2 linked regions of the Homo sapiens genome follow. The protein of the gene in region 1 purifies or fractionates together with the protein of each later gene. This does not show direct contact. Each region holds a gene or a part of one and is shown on either strand. Other genes may lie near its edges. The genes, in order: GRM4 and CD99L2.

Evidence for each region.
Region 2: the proteins of GRM4 (region 1) and CD99L2 purify together in Homo sapiens (affinity purification with mass spectrometry; one large-scale study listed by BioGRID and IntAct). This does not show direct contact.

Annotation. Positions count from the first base shown.
Region 1 is NC_000006.12:34,136,088-34,139,587, forward strand, and holds part of GRM4 (metabotropic glutamate receptor 4 isoform 1 precursor), read right to left. Parts: intron 1-3,500.
Region 2 is NC_000023.11:150,888,379-150,892,392, reverse strand, and holds part of CD99L2 (CD99 antigen-like protein 2 isoform 1 precursor), read left to right. Parts: intron 1-4,014. UniProt on the Homo sapiens protein: Plays a role in a late step of leukocyte extravasation helping cells to overcome the endothelial basement membrane. Acts at the same site as, but independently of, PECAM1.

The sequences.
Region 1 (3,500 bases):
CAAAAGACAACCACTGCCATGTGCCAAGCACTGTTCTAAGTGCTTTACCTACATTTTCTCATGTAATCCCCACATCCCTATGAGCTTCATGGTATTTTTATCCCTATCTCACAGATGAGGAAGCCAAGGCACCAAGTGCTTAAGCAACATCTAGCCAGGGGCACAGAGCTTGTGCAGGCTGCCCGTGCCCCTGGCTGCTCCTCTGTGCTGGCCCAGAGGATCTCTCAGGCCTTGCCAGTTCTAAGGTCCTGTGAGTTTATGATCGGTTTCCATGAATTTCAAACAGAGGGCTTTTTGGCATCATGACAGGCTGTGTGCTGGGGCTACAGCAGGGCAGATTCAGGCTGGGAGACCAATGCACAGCAGCTTTTGAAGTCAGGCCCTGCTTAGGCTTCCAGATCCTTCGTGAGGGCTCACACTGGCTTCTCCTTGAGGCCGGAGCACGTCTGGGCTGAGCAGTGCATGCGCGCGTGCGGACACACACACACACACACACACACACACACACACACACACACGGGGAAGGACAGATGCCATGGGGGAAGGAGGCCTCCAAGAGGAGAAAGGCAAACACCCGCAGATTAGAATCAAGAGCCTGGAGCCTCAAGCTGGTCAGATCCCCTGCGAGACTTCCCTCCCACAGGACTGGGTCCCAGCCCCTGCCCACAGGTCCCTATCCACCCCTCAGTCCCACCAGGCCTGCCTTTTCTGAGCTTCTCCAGAGAGCTGGGCAAGCCACTGCCTCTTTTAGCTTCCCCTCCCTCCTTTGATCATGTAACAGGAACAAGGGAAAAGTAAAAATACCCCATGAGTGAAAGGAGCCACTGAGAGCAGAGGCAGGGTGTGGTGGGGTGGGTTGGGGTGGGGGCCAGGCGGATGCTCCCTTCCCCCGCAGGGCCTGCTTCCTTCTGCAGAGGGAAGAGCTGGGGGCACATAGAAGGGGTCCTTCTTTAAAGTCCTTGCCCAGTTTTCAGACACTCCCCCGCCAATTCCAAAATAGCCAGGAGAGCTCAAGCCTGGGTCAGTTAGGGGCATCCTTCCCCAGGTGAAATCATCGGGATGACTGTGAGTCCAAGCCAGTGTGGGCCCCACCCCCAGACGGGCCTCTTCCCCCTTTCCTTTCCTTCTCCCTTCCCCACCACCCTCTCCCAGTCTCTCTCCTCTTCTCTGGCTCCACTAGGTTCCTTGGTTCCAGGGGAGGACAGAGCCAGGCATGGAGGAATGAGAGCCCTGAGGGGCAGGGATGAGAGCGACTGGGTCACCTCCACATAGCAACAGCTCTCAGGCCAACAGTGTTTTCCAGAACATTCTTTCCAGTGAATGGGGATGTAAGGGGAGCTGGTGGGGGACAGCTGCAGACTACCCCTTTCCCCAACCAACAGTCAGGGTAAGGGGGATGGGGGAGTCCCCACACATCCCAGCTGGGACCTCTCTGTTATCTAGGGCTTTTGTGCAGGAACTCCAGGAACCTGCCTTGTGGCCACTTCTAAGTCCCTTTTTTTTCTTTTTTTTTTGAGACAGGGTCTCATTCTGTTGCCTAGGCTGGAGTGCAGTGGTGCAATCACGACTCACTGCAGCCTCAACCTCTCAGGCTCAAGCGATCCTCCTACCTCAGCCTCCTGAACAGCTGGGACTACAGGAATGCGCCATCATGCCCACATAATTTTTTTTTTTTTTTTTTTTTTGCAGAGATGACATCTCACTATGTCGCTTGCCCAGGCTGGTCTCGAACTCCTGAGCTCAAGCGATCCTCCAGCCTCAGCCTCCCAAAGTACTGGGAATACAGGTGTCAGCCACTTTGCCCGGCCCTCTTCTTAGTATAATATTAACAAGCAGGACCTTCGTGCTTTTCCAACTTCAATCCTTCCCTCTGCATCCAGGGCCCAAGCCAGAAAGAACCACAAACCACAAAACAACAACCGGATCCGAAGAGAACTGCTGTGATTTACCAAACCCCCAATTATTTTTCATTGAGTTTCTTTTTATTCTTCCAAAACTAAGAAAATAGAACAAAACCCAAACACCAGAATAAAGGGTAAATCGAGAGAACAACCTTGTCCTTTGTTTCCCAGGGTCAGGGTCATTGCCAGAGTCCCTGGTTCCTGCTCTTGGCCCTCTGAGGGTCAGCTCCCATAGGAAAAGGGCTTGGGGACTCAGGCCCGAGCCCCTTGGGGTTCAGCAAAAAGAGCCAGGCCAAGAGCTCCCTCCCACCTTCCTCTCAGCTCCCAACCTTCCCTGTGTTCCCACCAGCACTTCCTTCATCTCCATTCACCTTTGTCTCTGCAGGGCCCACCCAGCCCAGGTGCTCAGGAGCGCTCTAGAATTGTGAATGGCTGTGTGGAGTCTGGTTTCAATTCCTGAGCTGTTTAGATGCCTCATCACCCACATCCCACATCTCCCAGAAGGGGGATGGCAGCGCCACTGCCCCAAAGGGGAAATGAGGGAGAACTGGAGGCCTCTCCCCTCCCCTCAGCTCTGTGACCCCTCTGCTATCCATCCGGGCCCCCACTGGCTGGGCAGAGGTGTGGTTTGTAGGACAGGACAGGAATCGGGTTGTCAGAACTGTGCCACCCCTGCCAGCTGCACTGTGCGACTCGCAGGCCATGGGGAAGGTGGATGACCAGTTAGCCCTTCAAATCCTCGCAGCACAGCCCTCCTCGTGCTGACCTCTGCAGCCCAGTCCTGCACAGAGCCTGGCATCCCCAGCAGGCTTTGTGGAGGTGAATGAATGACGTGATGTGAGCCAAATGATTCCAGGGCCTCTCGTTCAAGTAATCTATCTCTGTGTTTAAGGCCCCTTCCATAAGCAACTCTTTAACCCACAGGACTGATTCTAATGGTGGAATGTGAGGCATAGTTTCAGGCAGGGAAACTAAGGATTGATTCAGCTATAAGGAGGCATCTTGGAACCTTCAACCCACCCCAGGCCAGCTGGGGCTTTATTCTGCCTAAAGAGAAGCCCTGCTCCCAGGCAGTCAGCCAGAATGGCCACAGCCGCATGCTAAGAGCTAAGAGCAAGAAGCACAGTGGGGGTCTGGCCCCAACCGGCTTCCCTTTCCTTCCCCCGTGAGCTGCTCCGGCTCACCAGCCTCGACCAGGAAGCCTCCTGATGTCAGAAATCCCAGACCCCAATCCACAAGCTGTCCCCTCCCTGTTCTGCCAAAACAACAGGGCCCTGATTCAGAGGCAACTGGCTCTGTCATGGGCATGGGGTGGAATGCCCCAGAGGAGAGCAGGGAGGGAAAAAAGGAAGGTAATTCTTAGGGAAAGAGGAAGTAATTCTTTTGCCTAATGCCAGTGTAAACTTGGAGCAGAAAACTTTAAATCCATTGCCCCTGCCTTCCCCCAACCTATGATTCCCTCCAGCCTCCTCTCTGTGAAGCTCTCCCTTCAAGAAGCAGCTGAGATCCTTCCTCCTCCAGGAAGCCTGCCCTGATTATTACAATTCTTGTCATCTCCTTCCTCCGCAGTTAATGACACAGAACCTCTCTCATGTTAAC
Region 2 (4,014 bases), on another chromosome or scaffold:
CCTCGTGATCCGCCTGCCTCGGCCTCCCAAAGTGCTGGGATTACAGGCGTGAGCCACCGTGCCCGGCCTCCTGTTCTGTTCTTTTCCCCACCTGGTGTTTTGCTTTTTCTGCTGTGTGTTCACTCTTAGGTGGGTTTATTTATTTATTTATTTTTATTATTTTTTTCCTTCGAGATGGAGTTTCAGTCTTGTTGCCCAGGCTGGAGTGCAATGGCGCGATCTTGGCTCACTGCAACCTCTGCCTCCTGGGTTCAAGCAATTCTCCTGCCTCAGCCTCCCGAGTAGCTGGAACTACAGGCATGTGCCACCACACCCGGCTAATTTTTTGTATTTTTAGTAGAGATGGGGTTTCTCCATGTTGGTCAGGCTGGTCTCCAACTCTCGACCTCAGGTGATCCACCTGCCTCAGCCTCCCAAAGTGCTGGGATTACCCAGCTCCCAAAGTGAGCCACCACGCCTGGCTCACTCTTAGGTTTTGTACTTTGCATGTTATTCCTCTTCTGCTCTTGGGTGCCTGGGAGGACTGGCTCAAGGGGTTCCTGTCCCCCAATCCAGACTGGACCCTCCCTGAGGCTAGGTCCATGACTGGTGAATGTTGGTTTGCATGCAAAAGCTTAACGTCATCGTAGACACCTATCAAGAACGGGCTGGAAAATCTTTCATGTAGGCACATGTTCCACATGGAGTGGGGTGGGAGGCTGTGGTAGAAAGAATAATAATGAGCCCCCAAAGACATCCACGTCCTGATCTCTGGAACCTGTGAATATGTTAGGCTCCATGGCAAGGGAAATTCAGTAAGGTAGCCGATGGAATTCAGGCCGCCAATCTGCTGACCTTAAAATATTATTATCCTGGATTATCCAGGTGGACCCAATGTAATCACCCGGGTCCTTTAAATACAGAAGAGGGAGGTAGAAGAGTCGGGGATTAGAGCCATGTCATATGGGAAGGACTCGCCTGGCCATTGCTGGCTTTGAAGATGGAGCAAGGGGCCAGGAACCAAGGACCACACAGCCTCTAGAAGCTGGAAAAGACAGGGAACAGATTTTTCTCTAAAGCCTCCAGAAGGAACACAGCCCTGCCCACACCTTGAGTTTAGCCCAATGAGACCTGGGTTGGACTTTTATCTCTAGAACTGTGAGATAATAAATGGGTATTGTTTTAAACTGTTGAATACAGTATATTTTGTTATAGCCAAAACAGGATGCTAGTAAGAAGCTAAGAGTTAGATACTAGCATCCTCTTCCTTGTTTGGAAAACTAGTATGTGATATTTCCTTACATTGTTTCAGTTTTACCATTTTAAAATCAATCCCTAGAATGCTCTAAGTTCAGCATTTTAAAATAAATGTGCAGAAAATTGGGTTGTAATGATGTTTTTGGTGCAGCAATGAATGTTTAGAAGCATATCTGAGGGCCCAGGAAGGTAGCTGGATTTCTGGCGCTTGCATTTGATTCCAAACTGCTTTACAAGGGGATGGGAGCCTGCACTTCTGCTTTGGAGCATGGCCCATGTTGCAGGCCACCTGCAGTGGGGGCCACTGGCTGTCTCCAGAGGCCTTTCCCACCCTTCTCCTCCAGTCCTGATGGCCGCACTTGAAGCAGGATGCAGCCTGGGGCCAGCAGACAGAGGGTTTCTGATTTGTGCAGGCCGCACTTGCCCCTTCGCTGAGGACGAGGAGGAGTGTGCTGCCAGCCTGCCTTTCTCCTGGCTGCCCTTACCAGTGCTGTGGCTTCAGCTAATTGTGTCCATTCCCTCTCTCTCAAGGTGGGGGCGGGGGTGTGGGGAGAGGACCAGACAGGAATGGGTGCACCTGAATCCCCCACTCCCACTTCAACCAGTGTTGTTTTTTGTTTGTTGGTTTGTTTTTTGAAAGCAAGTTTATTTTTATTTTATTTATATTATTATTTTTTGAGACAGAGTTTTGCTCTTGTCACCCAGGCTGGAGTGCAATGGCGCAATCTCGACTCACTGCAACCTCCGCCTCCCGGGTTCAAATGATTCTCCTGCCTCAGCCTCCTGAGGAGCCGGGATTACAGGCGCCTGCCACCTCGCCCAGCTAATTTTTGTATTTTCAGTAGAGACGGGGTTTCACCATGTTGGCCAGGCTGGTCTTGAACTCCTGACCTCAGGTGATCCACCTGTCATGGCCTCACAAAGTGCTGGGATTACAGGCGTGAGCCACTGTGCCCAGCCTGAAAGCAAGTTTATTTATTTATTTATTTATTTATTTATTTATTTTGAGACGGAGTCTCGCTCTCGCCCAGTCTGGAGTGCAGTGGTGCGATCTCGGCTCACTGCAAACTCCGCCTCCCGGGTTCATGCCATTCTCCTGCCTCAGCCTCCCGAGTAGCTGGGACTACAGGCGCCCACCTCCACGCCCAGCTAATTTTTTTGTATTTTTAGTAGAGACGGGGTTTCACCGTGTTAGCCAGGATGGTCTCGATCTCCTGACCTTGTGATCCGCCCGCCTCGGCCTCCCAAAGTGCTGGGATTACAGGCGTGAGCCACCGCGCCCGGCTAGCAAGTTTATTAAGAAAGTAAAAGAATGAAAGAATGGCTACTCCATAGGCAGAACAACTCCACTTCAACCAGTTTTGAGCTTTGTTTTTATTAGTTTTCTACCTCGGGCTTCTCACAAGATGTCAGAACGTTCTGCTGCTTTACAGCAGAAATATCTTTGAAAACTGCTGTAGTTGAATCCTATAGATATGACACCCCTGTTCAGTGAACATCTGTGTAGAGGAGAAGCTAGAAAACATCTAGCTGTCATTGTTAGGTGGTTGTATTTGGGATTATTTTCTAAATTAGAGGTGATACTCTCCACAGGAAGTATTACTGCAGTGTGGAATTTATTTCCACCAAAATAGTGCCCAGGCACAGCCGGGGCTCATTTTGACCTTCTACTTTTGTTTTTTTTTTTTTATTGCTGCTTCAACTAGCCTGGGATGGTGGAACTATATTGGGTATTTCTTTCAGCCTAAGGGCAATGTGGGGGAAAAAAAACTGAGATGTGAATGGCACTTGAGATACTAAGGAAACCCATGGGCTAACCCCAGGGAGGCCAGAGGACAAAGAAGCCCTTTGATGAAGCTCATACCGGTCAGTGGCCTGGGACACAGAGAGTGGATCTGAAGGGCAGATGGCAGGCAGCAGGCCTTATCCTGAATGAGCAGCCAGGACCCGTGTGGGGGCACTGTGGGTGAAACAGAGCAGGGTAAAACATGCACCTGCCCTCAAGGAGATTAAAGTCCAGACAGACCTGGAAGCAACTATACATAGTCACATGTATCTTAAAAGACACACAAGGATTCCATTATTGCTGTAGTGCTATCTGCCAAGAGGACACTTGCCCCCTTTCTCCCAGGTTGAAGGCCGTTGCTGTCGCCTATTGCTGCATAATGAACCTCCACACATTAGTGGCTTGAAACAACTGTTTACTATGCTCTTAGACTCCATAGGTTGGGAATTAGGATAATGCAGCAAGGATGGCTGTCTCTGCTCTACTGTATCTAGGACCTCAGCTAGGAGGACTCAAATGGCTGGGGGCTAGAATCATCTGGAGGTTTTTTTTTACTCACATGTCATAAAGGATGGGCTTAGCTGGGGCTGTCCACTGGAACACCCAAATGTGGCCTCTCTGGTTTGAGCTTCCTTATAGCAAGGCAACTGTATTTGAACTTCTTACATAGCCCCTTCAGGTTCTAAGCATGAACATTCCAGTAGACAAGGTAGAAAACAGATGGGCTTAGAAACCTTTTAAAAATTGTGGTAAAATACACATAACATTTACCATTTTAACCATTTTAAGGCACACAGTTCAGTGGCATTAAATACTTTTTTTGTGTGATCATCATCATTCCCCCTCCCCTAACCCCTGGCACTGGCTCATCTGCTTCCTATCTGGATTTGCCCATTCTGGACATTTCATAGCAACGGAATCAGGTAGTATTTGTCCTTTTGTGACTGGCTTATTTCACTTAGCATGATATTTTCTGAGTTCCTGCCTGTTGT